Linked DNA regions of Homo sapiens. The protein of the gene in region 1 interacts with the protein of each later gene in a pairwise test. Each region holds a gene or a part of one and is shown in the gene's direction. Other genes may lie near its edges.

Evidence for each region.
Region 2: the proteins of SERTAD2 (region 1) and STRA8 interact in binary tests that used the Homo sapiens proteins (3 or more experiments, as listed by UniProt).
Region 3: the proteins of SERTAD2 (region 1) and IGFN1 interact in binary tests that used the Homo sapiens proteins (3 or more experiments, as listed by UniProt).

Annotation. Positions count from the first base shown.
Region 1 is NC_000002.12:64,650,912-64,658,270, reverse strand, and holds the start of SERTAD2 (SERTA domain-containing protein 2), read left to right. Parts: upstream 1-4,357; 5' UTR 4,358-4,651; intron 4,652-7,359. Other genes in the region: uncharacterized protein LOC124907776, read right to left, coding at 3,560-3,991. UniProt on the Homo sapiens protein: Acts at E2F-responsive promoters as coregulator to integrate signals provided by PHD- and/or bromodomain-containing transcription factors.
Region 2 is NC_000007.14:135,236,823-135,243,848, forward strand, and holds part of STRA8 (stimulated by retinoic acid gene 8 protein homolog), read left to right. Parts: intron 1-2,177; exon of another isoform or gene 2,178-3,696; 5' UTR 3,697-3,702; coding exon 3,703-3,894; intron 3,895-5,958; coding exon 5,959-6,034; intron 6,035-6,503; coding exon 6,504-6,588; intron 6,589-7,026. UniProt on the Homo sapiens protein: Meiosis-inducer required for the transition into meiosis for both female and male germ cells.
Region 3 is NC_000001.11:201,186,407-201,193,834, forward strand, and holds the start of IGFN1 (immunoglobulin-like and fibronectin type III domain-containing protein 1), read left to right. Parts: upstream 1-4,417; 5' UTR 4,418-4,501; intron 4,502-6,840; 5' UTR 6,841-6,887; coding exon 6,888-6,894; intron 6,895-7,428.

The DNA of each region.
Region 1 (7,359 bases):
CTAGTCCAGGACTTTTCCTGTCACCAGGCTGGTTCCTGGGGGCAAGAAAGGTCTGTGCAATTTCTAACATTCATTGAAATTTTCTGTGGAAGCTAGAAGTGTGCTCAGTGCCTTGAGAAGAGTGGGAACTTCTCAAGAATGATGGATGGCTTATAGACAGGAATAAATACATAGTCGATGCGTAGAGGCAATGTGTGTTGTGTAGGGAGCTGGGGATGGGAGATGTTTCTGAGAAGTGACCACCAGTCTTAGTGGAGTAGTGTCCCTACAGGAGGGAACCCTGGAGTTGTCAGAGTCACCAAGAAGGTTCTTTGCATTTTGATAGACTGCACAAGGCTTTTGAAGATTCAGTGGAAAATGGAATAGGAAGGAAGCTGATGCCTAACAGAAGCCATCTTCTCCAGTAATAGTTCGAAGGGACTGACCCCAAGTGCTAGAAAAAAAGGAAATGGTTTTAAAAGCATTTTCTTTAAATATTGCCATGAAGATTGTGTTTCAGGTTTAGATTTACATATTGTCAGATTTTTAAAAGAGAAAAAGGTATATCTTTAACAGACAAGTGAAACCTCCCTCAGAAGGTAAGAAGCAGTCGTTGCAAAGCAGTTCAATGTAACAACATGGAAAGCTTTGCAAAGGGGCCTTCACTGGAGCTGTAGTTCTGCTTTTATGAATTGTGACTTCAGGGAGGAGCAGAAAAAAACCATGACAAAAGCAGGTGGAAGAAGAGATGGAGAAAAGTTTGCAGAAGTAGAGGAGTTCACTTGCTGCTTCAATAGAATTGTTTTAAATTGTTAGTGGCTGAAAAGGACTGAATCTGCCTGTGCCATCTTTGCGAGAGTATTTACTTTTCCAAATCATTGTATCCTCTATTGACTCCTTGCTAATCAGTTAGGTGATGTGACTTCCAGAACTTTATTTTGAAGACTTATTCCAATATTCATTTATCCGAATGATGAGTCCACAGTTAGGATCTCCGTATTTTCCATGAAAAGCTTATTTAGCCTAGCTGGCTCTATACAATTCATTTAATAACTGAAACATTTATCTTTTTTGCCATAAAACCAAGACCAATATTTGCAAGGTATATAGATGGATGATCATTACTGGCATTTCAGGTGGAACCTGAAAGATAAAAATTTAATAAAAGCAAAGGAAAAATGAAATTAAGTTCAAAACCTGTTGTAAAGTCTTTGTTTCTCAGTTTATATACCCAGTTTGCCCCTTGTGTTTTTGGTGTGTGCTAATTAAGTGCCAAAAGTGGCCTTCAGTTAGTGCACTAGTGTACTAGTCTATAAGATGTGAGGGCACAGAAACTTTCAAAGGAGAAGCAGTGAAGTGTAAACTAGTACCCAGAACTACAAAATGATGCCGAGAAGTACTTCTCTGAAATTAAACTCAGGAGCATTTTTAAAATTTACCATCACAGTTCTATACTTATAAAAGAAATGTTTCTTTTCTCCCTAAACAGATATGTTCCTGGTAGTTAAATGTGGATGACTAGCCTAATTTCTTATAACTGTTCTAAAGTTATGTTATATGAAAGTGAGAGGCAGATCTTCTAAATTCTGGATGAGGCCCTCAGAGTAGGATTATTTTAAATGGGATTTTGTTTTGAGACAAGATCTCACCTACATTGGAATGCAGTGGTGTGGTCATTGCTCACTGCAACCTTGAACTCCTGGGCTCAAACAATCCTCCCATCTCAGCCTCCTTAGTAGCTAAGACTATAGGCATGCATCACCATGCAGGGCTGATTTTTTCATTTTTTGTGGCGATGGGGGTGTCGCTATGTTGGCCAGAATGGTCAACTCCTGGCCTCAAGTGATCCTTCTATCTAGGCCTCCCAAATTGCTGGGATTACAGGTGTGAGCCACTGCACCCAGCCCTTAAATGGGCTTTTAAATCTCCCAAAGAGTGAGAACAAAATTTACATATTCACTAAACACTGCTTATTCAATGACATGATTTGAAATAATATTTTATTGAATAAATATTTCAAATCATGTCATTGCATACTGAAGGGAGCTGACTTCAGAAGTGTGGAAAGTGCCTTTCCTTATCCTCATAGACTTGAATTTCTAGGGCTGGGTAGAGATTGCTGTCCTGGCCTATGTGTGGCTCAGCCTTGGGGTAGGGGGTTGCATAAGGGGAGGGAGAGGGTTAACCAGCTGGTGTTAACCACATTGGCAGCTGTTGAAACTGCCAGCTCACTTTAACTTCTTGGTCAAAGATGCCAGATTCTAAAAGTGGGGGAAGTGGGAGCTATTTGTAATGTGTACATTGATAAGATGTTACAGCCTTCAGAGGTATAAAGAGATGGAAACTATTTCACTCCAAAAACGCAGGTTGCTGGTCTCGTTAAGAGCGCAAACCTTTGTTTGAGCAGGTACAGAATACAGACCTTATGGACTTCAGCAGAATCCTGTCTATCCTAGTGACACAAAATTGTCACTTTGACTTAAATCCTGTTATTTTATACAGAAACACTGCATTTGGTGTAATCTATTTGCTAGAAAATATCCAAGTGTCACAAAAGTTCTGCAAGTGTAACTTCCTGCTTACTTTAATTCAAGAATAGCAGTTTAAATTCACAAATAGCAGTTTAAATTCACCTTAAATTCAACAGAGCTAATGCCTCTGGCCTCCTCTACAAAGATATCACAGGAAGAGATTATTGCAGCTTCTATTTCAATGGCTTTTCCTTAAAGTGAGCACTGAAAGTATAAGTGAGTGGGTGGTTAGGAAACTGTTAGTAGTTAATGCCCTCTCTAAACTGCAGAACTCTGGAAATGAAAAATATCTTCGCTTCACAGCAAAATGTTTGAATGTTATGCCACTCAGGCGCAAACTGAGCAAGACCTGCAGAGGGCCGGTGAGCACAGCTTCCATAATATGTCATTTTGAATGCCATTATAATGAGACTTTGCAAAGATATCCACAAATAATTAGCTTTTGGCTTAGGTTATACTGTATAAGACTTTAATTATACTGAGGGTCCAGTAAAAACCTTTTCCATCCTCCTTAAAGATAAAACAAGAAGCGTTGTCTCCTCTATCAACATTTCAGCACAAGTTTAATTTCGATGAGATCATCAATTTGATTGATAACAAATCATTACAGAACAGTTTAAACAAGTCTAAATTTCTCTTGATGTTAACGACTTACAATCGCCTTTATGTTAGGTCTTAAAGCTTTATTATTCTTAAATACAACTAGTATAGTGGACCATTAAACTCCAAAGTGATCTGAAATGATATTGATTGGGGTGGCAGCCAAAATTTTAAGGTGCCTGCCTGCATTGCCTTTTACATCTTGACGCTGAATGCACGTGTAATTTTTAAAATAATCATTAATTTTCCAGTGGAACCATCTATCTGGCCTCTTTCCCTAGTGCTCTTAAATTCTCACCATTTGGGCATACACACATTCTCTTCCAACTAGTATAAATTTCCCTGGTAAATTTAAGTAGTTCCAAGCATAAGCTTACTCCACGGGAGGGAAAGGCTATCAATGTGAAACTTGTGGGCAGAGGACTGCGCCTCCGACCTGGCTGCGTCTCCTAGCTTGGCTTCCCTCCTGCCGGGTCTGCACCGAGCCCCGGCCGGCCCCGAAGGATGCAACTCGTTCGGTCCGGCTCCCAAAGTGCCGTGGACTTGGTGACCCACTTCTCGTGTCGGGCTGAGGCCACGCGGGCAAGGGACTTTTTCTGTCCCCGGCTCACGGCTGGAGCCCCCATCCTGCCGTTCGGACCAGTGCGGGCCTCGGAGGAGTGTCCCGCAGCGGACCCCCGCCCAGGAACCCCTGCAGGCAGCGAGACGGGCGCCCGGGCCAGCTCTCTGCCCCTCGCCCCCCGCGGGGACCCTGCCCGCCCCGCTGACCGGCCCCACGTTGCCAAATAGCTCAAATGCTTGTCATATTTGCGGTCGCGCGGCTCCGCGGGCTGTGCACGCGCTGCACTCGCCGCCGCCTTTGTCACCAGCCGCTTCGTCATTCGCCTGAGCACTTCTAGAGTGTGTAGGGGGCGTTACTAGTGGCAGTGGTGGTCCTCGGGCCGGAGTGTCTCCTTCTGTCTCCCCTCCTCTTTCAGCCCGTCCTTACGAGAAAATCAGGGGCGCGCCGGCCCGGCAGGGAGCTGGGGGCGGCGCTGCCACCAGGCGCCCACTGCGCCCCGCCGCCCCTTCCTGCTCCTCCTGCGGCCGCGGCCGGCCGCGGCCGGCCCCGGCCTTTATCGCGCCTCCCGGGACCGCCGGGGAGAGGCGGGCCGGGGCGGGGCCGGCGGGGGCGGGGTCGGGCGGCCAGGGGCGGGGCCTGCGGCGCCGGGGCCCGGAGCTCGCGGGAGGCTCGCGGGCCGCACGTCACTCCTGCACGGCGAGTGCTGGAGCACGACGTACCGCTCGCTCGGTCAGGGCGCCCCCTCCGCCCGCCTCCTGCTTCCTCCTCCGCTGCCTGCCGCCGCCGCCTCCACCATTGTATAATGCTCGGGGCGCGCAGGCAGAGAACGGCGGAGTCTTAGCTTCAGCCTCGCCTGCTGCCCGCTCCCCGGCGCCACCCTCGGGCCCCTGGAGCGGGGCACTCCGCATGGAGCGGGAGTAGCTGAGGAGTGGGCGGAAACCCCTCCTGATGCGTTAGTTCCCAGGTGGAGCTGCATGTGGTAAGTTCTCCCGGCGTCGGGCTGGAGGGGATCCGCGGGCGCGGGGGGCTCCGGGTGGATGGGGGGCCGGTGTTGGGACTCGGCCAGGGCTGGGAGAGCCCGGAGGGCGGAGGAGGGGCCGGGCGCCGCCGCGGGAGGGAGCCGGGGACGGAGCAGGTACGGGAGGAGCGCTCCCTCCCGCGGCCCCGGTCCGGGCCCCGCGCTCTCGGACCCCCGGCGCCTGCGGGCTGAGCCGCTGGGGGGCAGGGCCGGGGTCAGGAGGGGGTCGGGAGCTCGGAGAGCCGAGCGGCGGGCGGGGGCGCCTGGAGCTGTCGCCTCTACAGCTGGGATGTGTGTGCGCGTTGTGGCGGTTGTGTTGTTGTGAACGTGCGAGACTTTTTTTAAGGCTCGGATTGCTGGCGCGAAGGCTGCTTCACTTTTGAGTTCCGTGGCCGGGTTTGCATCCAACTTACTGTAGTGCGTTTTTGTGAATTTCCCGGTGTTTTTTTTAATAATGTTGAAAACCTTCCTCTCCACCCTCTTTTCTTTCGTCCATGCCCAAATGAATTGATTTGGGATCTACATGTATATTAAACTTAACGTCTCGTTGGTTTTTAAGTTAGAAATCTACAAGTCATCTTCGTGGTAACCGCCTATGACTGAAAGGGAGGGGGCTGAGGGGAGCCAGCTGTCCCAAGCCCTAGACTTTGTACCAGTAAGAGAGGGGGTGTCGTCACAGGGCCACTACATGGACAGAAAATCGTATTTTGTTTTGTTTTCTTGGCTATAAGTTACCTTTAGCAGAAGTGGTAGTAATAGATTGCGATGGGAGTCGAGTTTTAGGTTTAGTTTCTAAGTTTCACGAAAATATCAGGTATAGTTTGCATTGGAATAACTTTTTGCTTGCAAGCCGAGTCGTTTCAGGAGGTAGAAAGTAAGTTTTCACAGACACTGAATGGGGAGGACAGTCAGCAGAGTGAGACAGCCAGCCTCAGACCACAGCAGTTTTTATTTGAATCGAATTGGGCAGCCTCAGTTGGGCTTAGGGTAGAGAGTACATGTTTTCAAGCTTTGTTCATGAAATACGCTTTTTGATTTCCCAATGTATGTTAAGAAATATCCATAATGTGTGTAAAGAGGCTAGAAGTTGTAGTCACCAGGATTCCTGAGGCCCTAAGTGTTCACAGTAGCTTTTTGTAGTTAGAGACTAGTCCCTGACAAGAGTGAAGTGGGCTTTGGGCTTCGCTCCGCCCCTGAAGGACCGTCCACCTGAGAGCGTCTGGGCTGCTTGGCCGATGGGGGTTGGGGGTAGTTGCTCAGCTCAGCAGAAGGCATGTCTCACCCTGGCAGCTCCCATCCCTCCCCCTTTTTATAGCAGTCTATTCTGATATGAGTGTGCTAGGGTGTGCTGTGAAGATGAAAATATCCATCCTAAGATCCCAACTTCTGGAGTGAACAAGAATAGTTTGTTTGTGGATCTCTGCTTTTCTGTTTATTTTTTCAGGGTTTTTTTTCTTTTTATTTAAAAGAGACAAATGTTTAAAAGTTTTCCTTTAGCTTCATTGACTTCTTTAGAGGGGTATTATATGTTAATATAAAATTGTTTATGTCGTTCATTAAGTTTGGAATCCTTTAACAGTTTTTTTTTTTTACTTGTTTCACCCCCTAATTAAAATATACATAACCATGTTGTTCTCAGATGAGAAATCTTATTTTGGATTTGACATCCCCCAACCCCCTTTTTCCTTAACACCCGGCCCTTTTCCTTACTTCATTCAGACAGGTAAGGGAGAGGACTCACATTTTGTAAAGCCAACCAAGTGTATGTGTGACAGGAGGTGTCCTAGGGAACGGTTTTATTGTCAGGCGAATGTCACAGCGTCTTAGGTAACAGCTGCTCAAGCTTGTTTCCCTTGAAGAACTAAGAGAAGGATATTAATTCAGATTTAGAAAATCTTTACACTTCTGTTTGCTGAATTGTCCCTCTTTAAAGCTTTTCTATTTAATTGAGAAGCTAAAATATGAATTTTGCCCAGTTGCTACACACTGAATTATTACTGATAATGAGCCTAGTAAAATAGCACATATTTTGATATTTTAAAACTCATTCAAATTTGTGTGGCGACTGATAGCTTATGGTATCTGCTATTTTAAACAGGGTTCCAATGGCAGAGTAAGTTACAACACTACTTTAGAAAGGCACACACATGCATCACACACAAAAAACATTACAAAACGTATGAAGGCAGTTTGAAGATGTTCGAATGCAAATACATAAAAATTTCTATCAACTTGCAGCATGCTACTTTTATTATCAGTGTCCAATTATACTACAAGTTTACCCTCAGACAAAATATTTTACATTTTAGTAACTAAGAAAGGTGAAAGCTGGAACAGAAACTTTGAGAGGTTTCTTTTGCTGTGGTTTCTTGTTAAAAAGCACAGAAAAAAAAGTATGAAGCTTTATTTTATATTTCACATATATCAACAGAATCAAGACCACTTTGTCAATATTACCTGTGGAAAAAGCTATATATAGATAGGCGTATTTGGGGCCATGAACTTTAATTCACTCATAGAATTTTTAAAGCTTCTTGGCAACAGAAATTTTGTATTCACTGTCATGGCATATCCTATAGGAGATAGCTCTAGTTGCAATAGTTACTTGGTGCGTGAGAGAGAGAGCAAGCGCAGGCGCCGTCTCTGATTACTGAGTCCAAAGATCAGTT
Region 2 (7,026 bases), on another chromosome or scaffold:
TCTTAGTAGTCCAGGCAATAGAATTCTTAGTGGTTTTAGTGTGGGAGAGGCAGCCAAGAAAGGGAAGCTTGAGTTAATCATCTATGTCTATGCATGGTACCACTTCCTGGGAGGGACACAACTGATGCTTGACACACAGGTGCCGATCAAAGATTTTTCTTAGTTGTTGCCAGAACATGATTGAGTTAGAAACCAGTGTGGCCTGGGACTGGGAAGCTCATTAAAGGAATTGGGACTTAAACTGGGAAGGGCAAGTTGGCTCTAGATCCATAGAAACTGAAGACAGGGGCAGAGAGAGATGGTATTATAGATGGAAGAAGGGGCAGTGGGTCATGGAATAAATATTGGTGAGCAGGGGAGCAAACCAAAGGGGTAATTGGGAGATTCTGAGTTTTCAAGGCTATTAAAATGCAGTTCCAGGCCCTAGGGAGGAGAGTTCCAGACTGTTTTCTCTACACTGCTATAATTCCTTACACTGCTGGGAGCAGTTTCTTTGACATACTTTGCAACTGCAGAGGGCTTTTAGGAGAGCCGAGTTTTGTTTTTAAGTAACAGATCACTTCTTGATCTCATTTTTACAATAGTTAGCTCCCCCTTTCACAGTATGTTTCATTCCCCCTTCCTAGCCAAACGGCTAATCTTGGAATAAGGCGGAGGGTCCTGCCCTCCTCTCCCCATCCTAGACAGTAACTTCTGAGGCACTTCTTCCAGGCGAGCCAGCCCTTCACACAAATCACAGGTGCTGACGGGACAGACCCAAGTGTATTATTAGATAAAAAGAGCTCTGTCCACCGGGCGTGGTGGCTCACACCTGTAAACCTTGCACTTTGGGAGGCCGAGGCAGGCGGATCAGGAGGTCAGGAGTTCGAGACCAGCCTGACCAACACGGTGAAACCCCGTCTCTACTAAAAATACAAAAATTAGCCAGTCGTGGTGGTGGGCGCCTGTAATCCCAGCTACTCAGGAGGCTGAGGCAGGAGAATCGCTTGAACCCGGGAGGCAGAGGTTGCAGTGAGCCGAGATCACGCCACTGCACTCCAACCCAGGCGACAGAGCCAGACTCCATCTCAAAACAAAAAACAAAACAAAAAAAAAAGAGCTCAGTCTAACAAAGATCTACCTAAGACCCTGTCAGGGCCACAGAGACGGAAAAAATTCCAAGTCAATCGAAATAACTAGGAAAGAATGCCTTGTGCGGATCATACATAGCACAGTGGTTCCTAGTAGTGAACAGGAGGCAGGATCTAGAGGGAAGACATTGAAAATCGCTCAAGGTCTAATTAAGAGTAACATCTCCAGCGCTTGATTCTGCCCTTAAAGCAGAGTAGGAGGGTCATCTCCCATCTTTCCTGCGGTGTGCCCCCTCCCTGAGCCAAGGGGGGGCGGGGGTGTAAATTTCCCCCAGCTCCTGACCAGGGGGCGCCTGGGGGCAGGCAAGATGGAGGCCACGGCTCCAGGCAGCTTGGCCAGCATGCTCTGGGGCTGTCCCCGCCCCTAGGGGCGAGCAGCCCTGGCGGCTCCTAGAGGCGACTGGTGGGAAGTCTGCCCCCTATGGGGGAGGCAGAGGACTGCACTCTTGTCCAGGGCTGAAACTGTCCACACAGCCATCCAGGAATTTCAGGCTGAGCGTGTTTGGGCAGAAGGGAGGACACCCAGCACTGGCATTGGGAGAACTCCAGATTCCCTACAAGCCCAGAGGCCTTTGGTGTTAGTATCCTGAGACTGTTAGAGAACTTGAGGTCCTGGGAGGACCCTGTTATTTTTATATCTCTGTTCATCTAGAACAGTGCTTCCCACCCGCTTCCCTTTTTCTGTATGTTAACCTAAATCCCCTGGTGTCCAGACACATCTGTTGCTCCTTAATTTAAACAAGTAAAAACAAAAAACAAAAAAAACCTATATTCTTCTGTTCAAAAGGTTCTCATTTTCCCTGGGCAGTTCAAAATCTTCACAGTTTCACTTTGCTTCCTATTAAAGATTAGTTGGTATCTGGAATTGAAGACCATGAAGGCATAGGCTCTAATCTAACATAACCCTGGAGCTGGGCTTGAGGGGCCTCTGCAGATTGGTGCTGTTTTCCCTTGGAAGATACCACAGTGTAATTCCTGGTAACAGATGTGACAGAGACATGCACGGACCAGCATGGGCAACCACAGCATCACTGTTCCCATCTTCCTGCCCTGTTCCAAAAAGCAAAACAAGGGAAAGTTGATACACTGGGGAAGACCAGATTATTGATGAGAAGTTGTTTTCTGAGCTAAAAAGTGTTTCAACATCCCACACTGCCTGATTGGGTTTACCATCTCATTGGCCTATTTTCCATACTATAGCATAGTGGGAAAGGTGTCTTCCATCTCCCTTCCTCATAACCCCTTAATGAAGATTGTTTCCAGCTGCTGCCAGCTGGGGTGATGCTTGACACACAAATCAAGAGTTAGCGGTGGCTCTCAAAGTGTGAAAGTATAGGAATCACCCTGGGAGCTGCACGCTGGGTTCAGATCCGATGTTTTCAAGGCAGGGCCTGGGCATGTGTATTTTCAACAGTCTCTGCAGGTGACACTAACATACCTCAAAATTAACAAACCCCTGGCGGAGGTCATGCATTGTCTCTGTATGGACTGAGCTCAGCAGGGAGTAGACCTAGCAGAAACCGCTCACTGTAATTCACCAGAAACTCCAGTACTGAGCACCTAATGGGGGCCAGGCTCTGTGTTACGCACTGAGGGTACAGAAGTGACGAAGTCGCAGCCTCCCTGTCCAAAGAGCAGACAGGCTAGTGGGGAGTAGATCTCTGAGTAGTGGGGTGAGGCCTGATGGAAGGGTCTATGGCTCAGGTAAAAGGCCCTGGCCCCTGTATCTTATTAAAACAATTACATGTCAGTCCCAGAATCGCCTCTCCTAGGGAAGGGCTTCTGGCTTGTAAGCTCAGATGTAACAAAGAAGGACACAGTGATCATCTCCAGAACCCACTAGAGGCAAGATAAGGCAAAATGGGTTTCAGTTCTCTGTCGTCAGGTGACTTTTGCTTGCACAGGTGGTAAAGTGAATTTTCTTATTTTCTTTTTTATGTTTTTCCTTGAGGTATATCACAGAAAAATTCTCGAGTCTAAAGTGTACCCCTTGAGGGATTTTTTTTTCATATGCATACACCTGTGTAACTACTATCCACATCAAAGAGGGGGCATTCTTGAGGTAGAAAAGACCTCACAGTGGGGACAAGTACCTGTTCAGCTTTGAACAGACTAAAGTAAAGCCTGAGATCTCAGGGTACAGCTGCTCTCCTTGGCCACGCGTAAAATTAACCCCTGAAATTAACAAGTGTCTGGTGAGTATCTGCAATGTGTTGGAACCTTTCCAGGTAAGTTCCAGGGCCCCTCAACTCTTAAGTCCTATATGGGTGGTTTGCAGTTTTAGGAGTTGAATTTCAAAAACAGAATTTGTGTTGACCCTGTATAATCTCCATCTGCTTTTCTTAATTAGCAATTGACCAACATCACCTTCAAAGGGCTTTTGTAAACTTCTCAAATTTCTCTCACTGTAAATCTTGCCAATAACTGAATTCATGAGGGAGTGAATTTGGGGCCTTTACTTGGGAAGGGTACCTCCTTTCTGCCTGCCTCAATTTGCCTTCCTTTTCCTTTAATATTGTATTTTTATTATCTAGGGCAAAAAAAAAAGCATACTATTACATTACAGCTTATAATGGCAACCCCTGAAGAAAACAGCAATCCCCATGACAGAGCAACACCCCAGCTGCCAGCACAGCTGCAGGAGCTTGAGCATCGGGTGGCCCGGAGACGGCTGTCCCAGGCCCGCCACCGAGCCACCCTGGCAGCGCTCTTCAACAACCTCAGGAAGACAGTGTACTCTCAGTCTGATCTCATAGCCTCAAAGGTATGGGGACCTGGAGGAGGAGAGGGGACATCTCCACGGGGAAGGAGACGTTTTCACAGGTGGAGGGACTGTGTTGCAAGGCAGGGACTGGCCTGGAGCTGCCACTTCTGCTGGGGTAGCGACAAATGCCCTAGACAGGGTAATTTATAAACAACAGAAGTTTATTGCTCCAGGTTCTGAAGCCTGTGAAGTCCAAGACAAAGGTGCCATCAGATTGGGTGTCTGGTGAGGGCATGCTCTCTGGTTCATAGACAGGGCTATCTTGCTGTGTTCTCACATGGGGGAAAGACAAACAGGTTCCCTCAGGACTCTTTTATAAGGGCACCAATCACCTTAATCACCTTCCAAAAGCCCCCACCTCTTAATACTATCATATTGGGGATTGGGTCTCAACATACTAAATTTTGGGGGGACACAAACATTCAGACCACAGCAGGTGGACAATCATCTTTCCACCCTACGAACAAGCCCAAGATGCTGGAAATCAGTCAGCCCCTGGTTCCAAGTCTTTGCTGACCCAACAGCATCAACATGAGCTCTGGGACTGGGGAGAGCAAAACACATAGGAGTGCTCAGGGAGCTTGCAATCCACTGTATCATCATGCAGCTGCGGTTCCCTTCACCTCCTCTTTGGCCTGGCAGAGCACTGTGACTCCAGCCCCCTCAAGTCTCCTTTTTAGGCACCACTAGAATCCTTGGAATCTAGAATGTCAAATCCCAGGCTACTCTGCCCCCAGCTGCTTTGGGGTCCCCCCTCCATGCCCACCCCACACTCTGGCCACATCTCACTGCAGCAGTTCCCTGAGCCAGGCCTGCCTCTCATGGCCTCTGTGTCTCTGCTCATGCAGTTAGCTCTGCCTTTGGGATTCTGTGCACACTTCAAAGCTGGGCTTGGCTCACTCTGCTCAGCTGCCCTGCTCCATGGAATCTTCTGGACCCCTCCAGTTGGACTATTCCCTCCTCCTTGTACATTTTCACAGCCCTTTGCTTCTACCCCTTGTTAGTACCTACTTAATTCTATATTGTGTTATAAGGGGTTGTTTCCATGCTTGTCTTCCCTGTCAGAGGTCAGCACCCTGAGAGAGGGGACTGTCTTATGTACTCTGTATCCCTGGGACTTACCACATAGTTTTGCCCTTGTACATGCCCAAGGGATGCATGCAGCCCCTGACAGATATAGGTGGTCAGCCTAACAAACAACATTTAGCATTGCTCGTTTTTGAATAATCTTGCTGTTACCATTTTAGCATTGCTCGTTTTTGAATAATCTTGCTGTTACCATTTTGACTTTAATAATGTTACATACAGGAAGTAAGGAGGGAAGAAGGAAGGAAGAGAAGAGGAGGAAGGAAAGAAAAAGGAAGGAAGGAAAGGAAGGGAGGGAGGGAGGGAGGGAAAAAAGGAAGTTGGAAGGGAGGAAGGGAGGAAGGAAGGAGGGAAGGAGGGAGGGAAAAAAGGAAGGAAGTTGGAAGGAAGGAAGGGGGAGGGAGGGAGGGGAGCAGAAGGGAGGGGAGGGAGGGAGAGAGGGAGGGAGGGAAAAAGGGAAAGAGGGAAATTTAGAGTTCAGGTTGACAGCATTTGATAAGTTTTTAGATCATCTGGAGCGTATGCAGTTAGCAAATAAAAATAGTGGGAGAATAGGACATTTAATATTAACTAGCCCTTTGCACAGGGTTACCACTGAGCTGAAGTCTAGCTCTGCTTTGTGCAAGCCTGGGGTTGACGTTCATGCAGAATGCGCCTCTTCCATCACTCCTTATTCCACCTTCAAGCCGCCTCTGTAGTCATTTGCCTTTCTACAGCACTAGCAATTTGCTGAACAAAGCTTAACTCTTTCCAAATCCTTTGGCATTTCGGTGAGAACCCACTTCTAGGCTACAAACAAAACTTCCTGCCTCCTGTGCATCAGAACAAACTTCCTATTCTTTTTACTGACAAGGTTAAGGGATGTGACTTTGCATCTGAGGGAGCGTGGCCTCAGCCCTGGGAAGGGATTCCTGGGTCCACAAAATCAGTCTCTGCAGTGAGAGGCTGGCTTTCAGCATTGTCTCTGTCTATCCTCAGTGGCAGGTTCTGAATAAGGCAAAGAGTCATATTCCAGAACTGGAGCAAACCCTGGATAATTTGCTGAAGCTGAAAGGTAATGGAGCACTACTTGCCAACCCCATCTCCCTCCCTGGAGAAAACTGGATCTGTTTTTCTATTGAAAACAGAAGTTGGGTTACAATGAATCAACAAATATTTATTGAGGGCCTACTGTGTGCCAGGAACTGTGCTTGGGCCAATGTTGAGGGTCCCTGTCCTTAGTGAGCCTGCAGTCCAGCAAGACTGGCCAGAGTCACCAGGCCATGAGACTCTGATGAGTTCCCTACTGGAGTGCTGCCAAAGGCACCTGATCTCATCTTCAGAGGCCAGAGGAAAAGTGGGCTCCTGCTTGTCTAAGGCTCTCCCTTCACACCTAGAAGGAAAAACTGGACCCTGGTCTCCCTAATGCTGACCCTGGAGGGTTCAGGGTCCCACCCACAGCCCACCTGGGCCAGAAGGGTGGGAGAGACTCAACAGAGGCCTGACTTTTCTCTTTGTGTTCCTGGTCTTCAACTCCCCAATAGCATCCTTCAACCTGGAAGATGGGCATGCAAGCAGCTTAGAGGAGGTCAAGAAAGAATATGCCAGCATGTATTCTGGAAATGACAGGTAAGACACCACAAACCCCAGGAAGCTGGGGACCTGCTGTGTCCTCACAGCCATCAGTACTGTCTGGTGGCAACTCACCCTTCCTCTCCAGCCTGCAGGACCATCAGGGCTGCTGCTCACCATTCAAAACAGCCATATGCTGGAGACCATTCGTTTCTCTTTTATTCTAGCAACATGCATCAATTTTTTCCCAATTATAAAAAGATACATGCTTATCACAGAAGATGCAGAAAATACACAAAAGCCAGAAAATATATATTGTCCCAGAACTCAAAGAAAATCAATGTTAATTTTCAAGAAAATCCATCAAGTTTTTAAAAAATGTTGCACATTATTCTTTAGAGAAATGAGCCCATAGTGTTTACATTATATTATAGCTTTTTCTATATGTATTTTTTAAAGCCACAACTAATGTCTTTCTTGGAGGATACATATGAC
Region 3 (7,428 bases), on another chromosome or scaffold:
CCTTCTCTGTAAAATGGAGATATGTTTCTACGTCATAGGGTGTTATGTGGGCTAAATGAAATAACCCATGTAGAAAACATCACACAGTAGGTTGGGGGCCTGTGAGTACTGTGATTTGCCTGATTATATGAAAATAGGCAAGTGTCCCTGCAAAACGACAATGCAACATTAGAAACCTGAGTGGGTTTGCATCTGTTTAGCTGGAGTGGTTTATTTACCTCCTCACCACCTGATGGAGATTTGAAGGGAGCAGCTTTCTGGAATGACTTGGGGTTTGGTGCTTCATTCCCACGAGGAGGCGAATCTGGCTGCAAAACACTTCACTGTGTGCCTTCCAGGAGGAAACCACTTCTCTCCAAGCCCCAGTGTCCATATCTGAAAAGAAGCGAGTTGGATTGGATCCACAGGACATTGGTCGTTAAGAGTGTAGACTTGGCACTGGATGGCCTTGGTCCACATCCTGGCTCTGCCACTCACTAGCTGTGTGACCTTGGGCAAGTTACATAATGTCTCTGTATCTCAGTTTCCCCTTCTGTAAAATGGGGTTAGTGATCAATTCTGCCTTTTGGATTTGTTGTGAGGGATTAAATGAGTTAACATAACTAAAGATTCAAAAGAATATCTGGCATGTAGCAAGAACTCTATCAGGGTTAAATACTGTTGTTACTGCTATAATGTTATTGCTGTTGTTAGATGCCCTCAATGGTCCTGTCTGGCTCTGACATTCTGTGAGAGTCTACACTGCCTCAATAGACTGAAGCCTGTTGTGGCTCAGCCATTCCTGGAAAGTGGAGTGGGATTTCCTCCCCAGCTTCTCCTCATTGAGGGTCCAAAGGACCCCCTCCTGTAGCCCTTGCGCCAGCTGAGCCTGCTGGACTAGGCCCTTCCAGATTAGGGATTGGCTCCTGACTCAAGTTTCTCTGTCACTGAAAGCCAGCTTTGCAAACATGAAATTACCCTTGGGGTCTCCAAGGTCTTCTTTCCCATGAGGCTACATGGGATTCATTACACTGCAGGTGAGGTGAGAAAGACATGAACTAAGGCTGACACATGGGCTGGACTGGAGATAGGGAGGAATATCGGCTAGGCAGGCAGCTGGGGGGCAGAGTGGATGGTTCAAGGGAGCAGGTGGACTGGAGGGCATCCTTGACCGTGGCCAAGGAGGATGGAAGGAAGCACAGGAGGGGTGTTGTTTGTCCACTGGTCCTCCCAGCTCCATCTTCCTGGGTAGGGACTGTGGTTGAAATAGAATCTTATGCCCTAGCTCCAGGCTTAGAGAAGGCCCCTAGTCTCTGAAGACATCTCCACAGGGCAGCTCATAGTCTTCTACCTTTCACAAAGACCTGCTCTGTTGGTGTTGTGTGGTGTATGTGTATGTTTGTGTGTGAGCATGTTTGCATGTCTTTGATTAGAATCTTCCTCTGCTAACCCATCTACATGGACCCCATTGGGTGCAAGAGAGGACACCCTCCCCTGGACAGCACCCTCAGTGACTCACCCAGCTGGGACAGAACCAGTTTTACACCAAGCATAGAGGCAATGAACGCCTGTGAATGAATTTAAACTCTCTCCTGAGTCACATGGACTGCTTTTCAAGTCCACATGGCCTTCCCCATTCAGTCACAGGACTGTGGAAGGTTCAAATTGGCCAGGATCTCAGAGATCATCTCATCTGACCCATGCCATCAGGAGTAAAAGGGTCCCAAGAGAGGCCTTTATGGGGCCTGAGCCTCTTGGTACCTGCCATATAATGCATTTCGTTCTTGTGGGGACAGGAGAGCATTAATGAATTCTGAACCTATCCCTACCCAAAGTCCCTGAGCCCTTTCCATAAGGCACTGAGGAACAATGAATAATGCACACAAATTCACTGCCCAGAGTTCTTTTGACATGGATATTCCCCTAATCGATGAAGGTAAGGTCTTGTGTCTTTTTTTTTTTTTTTTTTGAAACGGAGTCCCACTCTGTCACCAGGCTGGAGTGCAGTGATGCGATCTCAGCTCACTGCAACCTCCGCCTCCCGGGTTCAAGCGATTCTCCTGCCTCACCTCCCAAGTAGCTGGGACTACAGGCATATGCCACCACAGCCAGCTAATTTTTGTATCTTTAGTAGAGACGGGGTTTCACCATGTTGGCCAGGATGGTCTCAATCTCCTGACCTTGTGATCTGCCCGCCTCAGCCTCCCAAAGTGGTGGGATTACAGGCATGAGCCACTGTGCCCGGCCAGGACTTGTCTCTTTATCTCCCAAAGGAAAAGTCTATCAGGAGGTGTAATAAGATTATACCCTGGGAAGTGGTGGTGGATGGCTGGCGATCCAGACATAGCTAAATATTACTGGACACTACATTTGATAGAGGATAAAGTGGGGAGAGTGGTAAAAACTGTGTAACTCATTCTCAGTTCCTTGGAGTCCCGAAATTTCCATTTTATTGCAACGATAGGGATCCATGTATGACACAGCGCAGAGAGGAGTAGGTCCCCTAATGTGGGCTGCTGTTAAAACATGGAAAATGGGGTGAGTGTAGTGGCTCATGCTTGCCATTCCAGCACTTTGGGAGGCCGGCATGGGAGGATCACTTGAGCCCAGGAGTTTGAGACCAGCCTGGGCAACATGGCAAGATCTCATCTCTGTTTAGGAAACAACAACAACATCATGGAAAATGGAGGCCAGTTAGCAGGGCACACCTTGACTCGTGGATCTGCAGGCCATCCCCAGGCCCCAGGGAAGAGCACATGGGCTGTCTAGGGGGGCAACAGAGGCACGTGAAATGCTAAAGGCTCTGCATTGGGCCATGTTCACAGCCTCCTCCTTCCCCCTCCTGGAATGATGCAGCCTCCTCCTTCCCCCTCCTGGAATGATGCAGCATTGTGGCTCAGGAGGCCCCTGGAGCTCAGGGCCCCACCATGAGAAAGAACACCCTAGGGTGTTCTCCTGGGACTGCACTCCTGGGAGGTAGACTCCTGCCTCTCACTTTCTCCTTCCTCCAATCCCTTCCATTTCTGCAGCCAGAATGAGTTCTTCTAAAATGCAGATTGGATCCTGTCACCCCTCCAGCTTAAACAAACCTCAGTAACCTTTACAATAGAGATCAAAACTCTTCAATGGCCCCCAAAGCCTACCTGTCCAAACTCAACTCTCACTGCCACTCTTTCCCTTGCTCTCCAAGGTCCAGCCCTCCCCTCACACTCTCCATTGTCTCCTTTGGAGCCCCTACATCTACCTGCCCCATTAGACTGTGAACTTCATGATGGGAGGGCCCTGTCACTTGCTTACCTTTGTATTCCTAGGGCTTAACACAGTGCCAGAGCCAGGGCTCAACCCACGGTAGGTGTTCAACACATGTTTGTTGAACAAATGAAAGACCAGCCCTGACACTCAGAAACACACAGGGAGGACACACAAATGTATGTGTGTGTGCATGCATGCACACACATACACGTACTTGCGCAGAAGAGGTCAAACACCTCCCCTCTCGGAGCACATCCAGAGGTAGCGCCTGTAGAAATTGGCAAGATGCTAATCAACACATGTAAATATTCAGTGTCCTCCCCTGGATGCAAACATTCACCCCATTTCCCTTCTACTTCACCTGAATCCTCAATCAAGCCTCGCTTATGGGTGGCAACAAAGCAGTTCTCTGTCCTTAAGGAGAGAGAAGGTGGCTCTTTCAAAGCACACCAGGTGGCCTTATCTCCTGGGCCTCACCTGCCCTCCACTCTCCTTAAGAAAATCTGTTACCAGCCATTGTATTTCCAATTTCCACTTGCCATCCATCTGTCCGACCAAAAACCCAACCATCTGCCCTGCCGACTTCGCCCCCAACCCTGCTGGTCAGGTCACCCCTTCTGTTCCTTGAAAAGCTCCTGAGCAAGCTCACCTTCTCCAGCAGGCCTGCTGACTACACAGTTCCCAGGGTCTCCTCCTTCCTGGTCACTCTCGGTGGACTCTGTGTCTGTGACTCCGTTAATGGCTGCCTTCCCTCCCACTCCCAAAGTTTGCTGCCTGTTTGATACCACTTGGAGGTGTGATTCCCAAGAGGGCAGTGGCTTATGTATCTGTGTGACTTATGGTGTCAAAGGTCCCAAGGGACCAGCTTAGCTGAAAAGTTAAGGGTTTGGATGATGAAAATGTCCTTGCTAAAAAGGGTCGTATAAATGAGGCTTCATGGGGCAAATTTACACTAAGCCAGTCTGGTTAAGAGCTTAAAGCTCTGCAAAGCGAGGAGTTGGATGGACTGATGTCACAGGACCCTTCCATCTCTGACCTCCTCTGAGCTAGAATGTTAGCCCTGGGGGCCTTGCCCTGCCAAGCCTGGACTGGAGGAGAAGGAGGAGGCGGGGTGAGTGGGAGGGGCAGAGGGAGCAGAGGCGCCTGCAGCAACCGACACCTGCTCCAGCCCTGCCTGTCCACTACCAGTCAATCCAGAGCCTCAGCAAGCAGCAGCTGGAAACGGGGAAGAGGGAGCAGACAGGAAGCGGGAGGTCAGCTGTACACCCAGGTAAGTGGGTGCTCACACCTGGCTGCCCACCCGGGCCAGGGTAGGGCCAGGATGGAGACACTAGCCTGCTGTCCAGCTTTTCTACGCAGGAAGGGGCAGGCAGTGGGCAGGATGTCTGCCTGGGGAACATTCCCTGGCTGGCGGATCACACGCTGGGGTGCACCTGTATCCCCTCTAGGTTACTCCAGGATATCTGGAGGAGAGAATTTCAGTGTGTCCTGTCTGGGCATTTCTGTCCTGGCTCTAATTTTCTGGACACGGCTTGACTTTGGGTGTGATACGATGACCAGATTAAAAATATCACTAGCAGTCCAGAATAAGGACCTCGGGCTGGGACTTGTTATATTTTGGTTAGTATCATGGTCAAAGCAGTTGAGAGAACTCCATTTGGCTCTTCCTGCCTCAATTTCTACCAGTTGAGAGGTAGCAGGGACCAACTGGAGGTAGCAGGGACCTGGATGTGCAGGATGGATCCGGGGAGGGTAGGGAAAAAGGATGGGGAGCCATAGGTCCTGGAGAGGGGGCAGGGAGGGACTGTCCCAGGATCCAGTGCTGAGAGTGTTGTTGGGACAGCTGAAGTGAGGACACAAACTGCTGTTTCCTTCTGGGAAGAACTGGAGTTCTTCTCAAATGTGGGAATGAATTATGGAGGAGAGAATTCATTTCCTTTCTCATCCCTTCCAACTGAGACTACATCCCTCTAGTCTCCAATCCAACAGATCTCTTTCCCTGTGTCATTGACTTTGTACCAAATCTGGCTTATTCTAAAAGAGAGTGGAGCTCCAGAAGTGGATGCTTAACGTCACATCCCTAAGTTCCCCCAAGAGCTTTGCTTCTTTTGCCCTCCTCTGCTGGGAGCTGTAGGCAGGAGGCTGGAGGGAGAAGAGTGGTATCAGCGTCATCCTTCTTCATGTGTGACCAATAGCTGAGTAACAGGATGATAGCTGCTCGTGGTGATGATGTGGGTGACGATGGGGATGATGACTCAGATAGCTGTGTTGAACTCAAACTACTCCAGTGTGGGGGTCACCGACTGGCACCAGTGCACTTGCATCTACCAGGAGGCTGCACTGAGGGGTGGGTGGGATGGGGGCCCTTGCAGCCCTCCCCCTGGCCGTGTCCAGCTGGGTCCTCATCCGTTGGTGGCTGCCTTCCCTCCCACCCTTCCTCGTGACTCCCTTCGGCGTAGTGCCTGTGGCACCCGTGACCACTCCAGAACGCAGTTGGCGTACCATGGCATTCCAGCACGCTAGGGTGCAGCGGCTGGGCTGGCGAGGGGCTGCCAGGGGTCAGAAGTGCCAGTGGGTGGCCGTTGCGAAATGGAATGATCTCCATGGGAGAGAGGAATTTGCTCTGTCATGTGTGATTCTATATTAATGATAAGGCTCTTTGGGCAGAAAATGGAGTCCCCAAAATGGAACCGCTTGGCCATGGGCCAATCGCACAGAGGGTGGGACTGCTGGAAGATTCTTTCAAGACATCCCCCCTCCCTGATTTATGGCTCTCATCCCACCCCAGACCCAACCCCCTTCCTCTCCTGTGTGGGACTCCCCATTGGCCATAACAGATGGATGCAATTAAGAGGAAATCAGGAGAGATGGTGGTGGTGAGAGAATGGAAAATACTCCTATTCACCTGACACTATAATTCACTGGCTTCTGAGGGGAGCAGATGGATTTATGGGGATCCTACAGGCCTGGGCCAAGAAGAGCTTAAGAGCAGCAAATTTGAGGCCTCTCCCCTGCAGACCTTGTGACTGGAAGGATTCTAGATTGGTGGAGCGTGGGAAGTAGAGGGCTTCAGTGTCCTGCCAGAAAATCTCAGAGTTGGGGGAAGAGCCAGGAGGCCCAAAGAATGTCCTTGGAGAATTCCCATTCCAAAGCCAATGGGGCAAGCTGAAAGGAGCCTGAATCCTTTCACAGCTGAAATCCTTTCACAGCTGAATCCTTACACAGCTGAAAGGATCCTGAATGGGTCTGATTTCCTCAGGTTTGGGAGGGTTGTGTCTCATGTTCTGGGCAGGGTAATCAGGTCTGGGGTCCCACCAGGAGGCCAGGCCACCAGCACAGTGTGCAGGCTCAGCTTATGGTTCCCTTTACCTGGGAATGTTACCAACTGGGTAGCATGCTACCCACTCCCTGGTCTCTGGGAAATTGGTTTTGCTGGGGACAGGGAATTGCAGGAAACTAATCAGTGCCATTAGTGGGTTAGAAAAGCTCTTGGGGGCAGCAGCTTTTTCCAGCTCCCACCCCAGACATTGGCTGATGCACTGATGGTGTGGGAGGGGTGGGGTGAGACCAGCCTGGATTTCTCAAAAGCAATTCCATTTCTGTTCTCAGGGTAATAGAACTTCTACCCTCAGAGGAGTCAAAGAGGAGGCAGAACTATGGCAGGTAAGAGAAGAACTAATCTCCCCTCCCCAGCCCTCCCTGGCGATCCTTACCAGGACAGAGAGGAGAGAAGTGGTAGGGATCAGAGATTTCTGGGAACTTGCCCATCTTGTTGTTGTTTTTTTTCTCCTTATTTTATTTTATTTTATTTTTATTGTTGTTGGCTTTTTTTGAGACAGAATCTCACTCTGTTGCCCAGGCTGGAGTACAGTGACGCGATCTCAGCTCACTGCAACCTCCACCTCCCAGGTTCAAGTGATTCTCCCACCTCAGCCTCCTGAGTAGCTAGGATTACAGGTGCCTGCCACCATGCCTGGCTAATTTTTGTATTTTTAGTAAAGGTGGGGTTTCACCATGTTGGTCAGGCTGGTCTCGAATGCCTGACCTCAGGTGATCTGCCCACCTCGGCCTCCGAAAGTGCTGGGATTACTGGCGTAAGCCACCGTGCTTGGCTTTTTTTTTGAGTCTTGGCTTTGGGTTTTGATTTGTTTTCCTGAGTAAGGAGTGCAAAGCCCCCACACGAGCTCCTGCTTCTTG